Linked DNA regions of Homo sapiens. The protein of the gene in region 1 purifies or fractionates together with the protein of each later gene. This does not show direct contact. Each region holds a gene or a part of one and is shown on either strand. Other genes may lie near its edges.

The links. Proteins that work in one complex are often made in the same cells at the same time.
Region 2: the proteins of DAZL (region 1) and PAIP1 purify together in Homo sapiens (affinity purification with mass spectrometry; one large-scale study listed by BioGRID and IntAct). This does not show direct contact.

The regions. Positions count from the first base shown.
Region 1 is NC_000003.12:16,591,924-16,595,423, forward strand, and holds part of DAZL (deleted in azoospermia-like), read right to left. Parts: intron 3,463-3,500; coding exon 3,391-3,462; intron 2,661-3,390; coding exon 2,610-2,660; intron 1,846-2,609; coding exon 1,732-1,845; intron 226-1,731; coding exon 127-225; intron 1-126. UniProt on the Homo sapiens protein: RNA-binding protein, which is essential for gametogenesis in both males and females. Plays a central role during spermatogenesis.
Region 2 is NC_000005.10:43,536,578-43,540,077, reverse strand, and holds part of PAIP1 (polyadenylate-binding protein-interacting protein 1), read left to right. Parts: intron 1-1,042; coding exon 1,043-1,154; intron 1,155-3,133; coding exon 3,134-3,259; intron 3,260-3,500. UniProt on the Homo sapiens protein: Acts as a coactivator in the regulation of translation initiation of poly(A)-containing mRNAs. Its stimulatory activity on translation is mediated via its action on PABPC1. Competes with PAIP2 for binding to PABPC1.

The DNA of each region.
Region 1 (3,500 bases):
ATAGTCAAATGCCAACAGTTAATTAAATGCTCTAAGAAATCTCAAAATACATATACCACAAGGAAAACAGATACTTTAAAGCTAACAAGTGTGCTTTTTAATTGTGCGTAACTGTTATATTCATACCTTGAAGTAGTCATCTTGAGTAACAACAGAGTTTCTCAGTCTGTTCTCTGGATTAAACAGACAAGATACCACCGTTTGTATGCTTCGGTCCACAGATTTCTGAAACACAGAAGTTTTCAGTAATGTAAAGACGACTCTTTCACTCACTCTTAGTAAGGGTTTTTTTTTGATAGTTTAATGAATATATTACTTTATTTCTAAAGAAATGCAAAAAATGCTAAAAGAGACTGGGAGTGGTGGCTCACGCCTGTAATCCCAGCACTTTAGGAGGCCAAGGCAGGAGGATTCCTGCCTCCTCCTGAGGTCAGGAATTCAAGACCAGCCTGGCCAATATGGTGAAACCCCATCTCTACTAAAAAAATACAAATATCAGCTGGGCATAGTGGCGGGTGCCTGTAATCTCAGCTACTCAGGAGGCTGAGGCAGGGAGAATTGCTTGAATCCAGGAGGTGGAAATTGCAGTGAGCCAAGATCACACCACTGCACTCCAGCCTGGGCAACACAGCGAGACTCTGTCTTGGGGAAAAAAAAAAAAAAAGAAATTCATAAAAATGTGATTCATAATTCTTACCACGTATCACTCAATATGCAAGTTTTCTGACAAAGATTTTAGAACCTTAGTGATAGAATACTGGTTTAAAAAGCTGAATTTGTTAAATCCCTAAGTGAACTCCAATGTTTCAAGAAAAAATATTCAGGACAAAACCTGAAAATTACACTGTAAGCTATTTTAATATTTATTCGCATTTTAAAATCGAGTATCAAATCAAGGAATTTACACTCCAATGGGACTTCAGTGTTATACATATTACCAACACATCAACTACTTCTACACTCCCGCTCATTTAAGAGAACATATGTGATTCAAGAGTGATAGTATTATTATGGAAATTTGCTCTAATGATAAAAAGAAGAAAGAACCCTGCCTAATTCAATATTTGAATAATTATTACTGACTTCACCACTGTTGGGAACTACTGCCATATATAATGTTACAGAGAGAATGCCGTAAGTAATGTGTTTCACTGTTTAAGTAAATATCAAAATTATAAAAGAAAAGGTACATGTAATTCGTACCAATTCCTCTTTTGAAGAGTAGAATTCTTGAGGAAACCTTCCCATAACATTCTGCCAAATCCTATTAATATAGTATTTATTGAAGTATGGTTTTTAAAAATTAGTGGAACTGGAATATAGGAAAGGACTGCTGAATCAGAAACTTTATGTATACATTGAAAATTTGGGCTATCTGAAATTTCACCAACCTTTACATTAACTGCTGAATATTAGTCAATTATTTAAGATCTATAATTTATGGCTCCTATCTTGCCCAGGGTGGTCTCGAACTCCTGAGCTCAAGCAATCCACCCATCTCAGCCCCAAAAAGTGCTGGGATTACAGGCGTGAGCCACTGCACCCAGCCAAGATCTGCTTTCTGTATCTAAAATTTTCTTTTACTATTTGGTCAAGCCAGTCAACTAACTCTTCTCTAGTTAACCTTTTCAATTACAAATTTCTGCTGAAGGATGATTGCTTCTCAAAAAACCATTATTAAAACTAGAAAAAATAAATATGAAATATATATAAACAAAATTAGATGTTTGCCTTTTGTGGGCCATTTCCAGAGGGTGGAGTAGCTTCATGAACTGAACATTCATTTGGCACAACTTCAGCTCCTGGATCAACTTCATTACAGTGGTAGTTAACAGCTGAATAAGCCTATATTTAAAATAATGAAAGTGTAATTAAACAGATATACAGATATATTTAAAAGCCACTTATTCTTCAAAAAGCTAAGCTGGTATCAAAAGTTTCAATGTAGGTTGTGTTGAAATTCAATTATATTATTTCAAAAACTTTGTTTTAAATGAACAGTTGAAATACAGTAAGGCAGCCTTCTGTTTTAGAATGTCTTTAAGGCATCAACATAATCAGAAGTAGAAGAACTCTAAGAAACTAATGTAGTAAGAGAGTGTTTGAGAATTTTAACACTTATTATATCCTTCAAATTTCCAATCCTGATAAAAGACAGCAGCTTGGGTGTTTTAGACGTAATACTCTTGTTTTATTCCTATTTTTATTTAACAGTAATTAACAGCAAAACATTTCTGTTCCTCTTCAACAGTTTTTTTTATGGCTGGTAAAGCCAGAGGCAGAGTCTAGGCAGATACATGCTAATTCTAAAGCCACATTAATACTACCTTTCCTGAATTATATAGTCTATCAACAAGTAACTGAACACTTATCATTATGTGGACCAGCCATTGCTTAAGCACACAAAAACCTGAGAGAAGAAGGCACTGTTGCTCCCATGGGAGTTTCTAACTGGGTTAAAAAGAAAGTAACAAAATGTAACACATTAATACAAAAAACTATTTAAAAATATAGGCATATATGACATGGAAAACAATCAAGAAATATAGTTAAACAAAAAAAAATACTTTAAAATAACAGGAATTATATGTTTGGCTAATTCACTTTACCGGAGGTACAACATAGCTCCTTTGCTCCCCAACAGGCCACTGTGGTGGCATCTTAAAAAAAAAAAAAAGGAAACCAAAATTATTCAAATATTCCTACAAATTTTCAAAAACACACGAGATACACAATATTGAAGTACTTATCATGCTGGCTCCTTTGTTGTTATAATAAAAGAAACAGAATGAAAAAAAAGTACTTTATGTTTCTAATCCCTGATGTTCTTGTTACTTCCATATATAAAACCTCACCTTTTTCCCAATTTTCTGGAGTTGGCATTGTGGAAATCTCAGAGATATTAGTTCCTTGAATTTATTACCATAGATATGATTATGGGTCACAGATACAGTCATATCTATGTAAAGAGTCTCAAAGAACTACTATCATGAAGCAGTCAGCTAAAATAAAAATACAATTTGAATTCTGTGCTCTAAGAATTGGATAATTTTATTTCACTCTATCTCCCTAAAAAATTGATGAAAGTCCGTCTGGCTGTTTCGGCTATTTGACAGCAAAGATGAAAAAATACATGCTGAAATACAGAAGGGGACACCGAATCTCATAAAACTGTTGTAGAGAAAAGTTATTGCTAAGTATATCCCTGTCAAAATATTATTCCATTACTTCTAAATAATAAAGAGGTCTTAATTCTAGACTAATTTTTTTCTTAAATTTTAGGTACATTTCACTAGTTTAAAATGACAAACCATTCAGACAATTTGTATAAACAAGTTAAAGGCCTCAATAAAATCTGAAAGTAAATCATTTTACTCCCTTTTAAATTACCTGATAATTATATACAGGCAACTGATATCCAGTGATGACCTGAACTGGTGAATTTGGGTAAGTAGGATATGCCTGAAAATCAAGTTTACAGAAAGAATGAATAATATAAA
Region 2 (3,500 bases), on another chromosome or scaffold:
GAACAAGAGGTAATTTATTTTTTCTTTGTTAAAAATTGTTTACAAAGTCAACCTAAACTGGCTGCGTGGAAACCATTCAGTACCCATAGCTTTTCCCTTTGTCTTGAAAAGGAAAACTGTCAAAACCAGTTTTGTGAAGCAAGTTACTTTCCCAGAGTTTTCTCACCTTATCAATAAAGATTACAAATACTTAATAACAAAATGATAAACTTTTACAGTCCATTTAAAAAATCTATGTTAGTAACAATATCTGACACTGTAGTTCACTTATGAAGGCAGTGACAGGATTATTGTGCCTAGTTTAGTTACCTTGTAGGAACTATGACTGACAATAAGCTCCAAGAAGAGGATTTCTTCTTTTTCTCCTCTGTGTGAAGCAAATGGGTCAAGTCAGGGGCAAAGAGAGCAAGGAAAAATCAGTTATTTGAAGCTGTCAGTCTCATTGGAAATAGAAAACAAGTCCGGTGCTTTCTATATTGTGGTTTTAATGGGGGAATTTTTTCCTCACATTAGTACTTCTCTGATACGTATAATGGAAATTACAAGAATAATGGACTTAAAAACAATTCATTTTATTTTCAGTTGGAGGTTGTGTGTGTGTGTGTGTGTGTGTGTGTGTGTGTGTATTTAAAGATCCTTTTCAAAGTTGTAGTATTAAAAAAAAAATTACAGAGACAATTTGGGTAAAATCAGTGCTTTCTTAGTAAAAAACCTATAAGACAAGGTGAGGCTCTCTCTCCCCTCTTTGGGCTGCCAGTATGCTGTGAATCAGATTACACCTATGTTGCTTAAACATATTAAATTTGATAAAAATCGTTGAAAATAAAACTATCAGTTTTTTCAAACTGGGAGACTTAGTATGAAAAGATGGTGTATATTCTAGCCTCTTCAATAGTCAGGAACAGTTTCTTTATTGTAGAAAGAGCATTGGGACATTGTCCTTGCCTCTTGCTGTGGACAACCAAACTGACAAATGGTTATTTTGTTTGACTATTTAAAAAGCAAAGCAATGTGAGATTATAAAAGATATGTCTTTAATTAGATGTCGGACTGAATATGAAGTTAAAGATCAAGCTGCAAAAGGGGATGAAGTTACTCGAAAACGATTTCATGCATTTGTACTCTTTCTGGGAGAACTTTATCTTAACCTGGAGGTGAGAAGTTTTTCTTTTGTTAAGTACTAACAAGGCCTGAGAACATAAGTTGATCTCAATGAGGAATTTGTGTTCACATTGTACTTTTACAACATTAAGAGTGAAATGAAAGAGAGAGGAAAGAAAACATGTTTCGGCACCTGCTAGTGTCTGTGGTTTACTGGACCGTCTGTCCATAACATTTACTCATGGACAGAATGTTAGGAAATAATTACTGAGGTAAAAATCTGCGTACTTTTAGGAAGCTGTGGTTTACATGCAAATTTAAGTTCTTGAGATATCAACAGTGATACCTTTTTGAGTTCTTACATCTTATATATTAATACATTTAGTATGTTGACTTTCAGATGGTGGCTCAAAGCAGTTTACTCTGCAGAACTCTGAGTGAAAAGAGAGACTAGAGTCTCTCTAGGCTTTTCACTCTAATTCACCCAAATAGTTTTTTAAAAATATTTTTTTAATTGACAAAAATTATATCTTTATGGTACACAACACTTTGATATATGCATACATCGTAGAATGGCTAAATCAAGCTATTTAACATATGCATTACTTGACATACTTTTTTGTGTTAAGAACACTTAAAATTTTTAGCAGTTTTCATGTATACAATATATTGTTAACTATAGTCATCATGGTGTACAAGAGATCTCTTGAACTTATTCCCCCTAAATGAAATTCTGTGTCCTTTGACCAACATCTCCCCAATACCCCAACCCCTAAGAATAGTTCTTTTTTGTCCTATTTTATATATTAATCTTCCACATAAAAATGCATTTGTACAAAGTCTACAGCTAAACGTATTTATAAATTTGGGTGGTATACTTAAGTATATGCTTGTTAGTAGGCAATAGAAGTGCTGGATTCAGCACGGCATTATTACTGTGTAATAGATTTGCTTGATTTTTTTTTTTTTTTTTTTTTTTTGGGTGGGGACAGTCTCGCTCTGTCACCCAGGCTGGAGTGCAGTGACGTGATCTCGGCTCACTACAACCTCCGCCTCCCGGGTTCAAGCGATTCTCCTGCTTCAGCCTTCTGAGCAGCTGGGATTACAGGCACGTACCACTATGCCTGGCTAATGTTTATATTTTTAGCAGAGATGGGGTTTCACCATGTTGGCCACGCTGGTCTCAAACTCCTGACCTCAGGTGCTACCCGCCTCAGCCTCCCAGAGTGCTGGGATTACAGGCATGAGCCACCATGCCCAGCCTCTGCTTGATTTTTTAAATTAGTGAATATCAGATATAAGCTTATACCTTCTTACACCCTGATTTGAGAACTTAAGATCGTAAACGCCATAATATCAGAAACATCATAAGACAATGTGAATCTATCAAATGTGCATCTCAGTCATTGTATCTAAAAGGTCTATGTCCAGTCCAGAGCCTAACTTACTATGCCTTTTTACCACAGGTAGACTTAGTTTTTTGAAAAATCTTATGCCATGTTCTTTTTCAGTCTAATTTTTGTTTAAGCCAAAATATGGACAGCAATCTAAAATAAATACTGTTGAGCATTTTCTATATGGAGATAATGATGCTAGGTCAATGGGGGATGTAAAGATAAGGCTTAGTTCCTGCACCTAAAATTCTTCTACACAGTGATATAAGATACATATACCACTCTGATGCAAAATACCATATTTTAAAATATTTTAAAAGCAGAATAAAATGCTGTGTGTTCAAAAAAAAGTGGTAGTTGAACAAACTAAAGAAAGCTTTATGAAGTAGTAACATCAAAGTGGGCTTAAATTATGCTGACTCTGGTATTAAATTTTACCCATAGCTTACCAGTTTTATTAGAGGTCTTAGTTACATATAAAGTAATTCTAACAAATTCTGTGAAGATATCAGAGTGTGTTCCTGTGACTTTTGTGATTTAGCTAAAATGCTTATTTTGCCAACACCTTGTTAGTTCATTTATGTATCTGTATTATATTTTGGCATCATTCCTTTTGTTCTTTTTTTTGGTCCCGAAAGATCAAGGGAACAAATGGACAGGTTACAAGAGCAGATATTCTTCAGGTTGGTCTTCGAGAATTGCTGAATGCCCTGTTTTCTAATCCTATGGATGACAATTTAATTTGTGCAGTAAAATTGTTAAAGGTAGGTTTTTTTTTTTAATTTAACTAATTTACGTATTTACTTATGATTTAGAGGAAGGTTAGTCTATATAGTATACAGATGAATTCAAGATTTATCACTTTAAGGTAAATATTGACATTTTACTTTTTTCTCGAATATTTTGGAAAAGCGAGATATACTTATTGTTTAATATATGAAGCAAGTTCAGAAGTGAAAAATGGAAGTCCTTTACGCCATTTCCATTTGCAAATTCTGTCTTCTT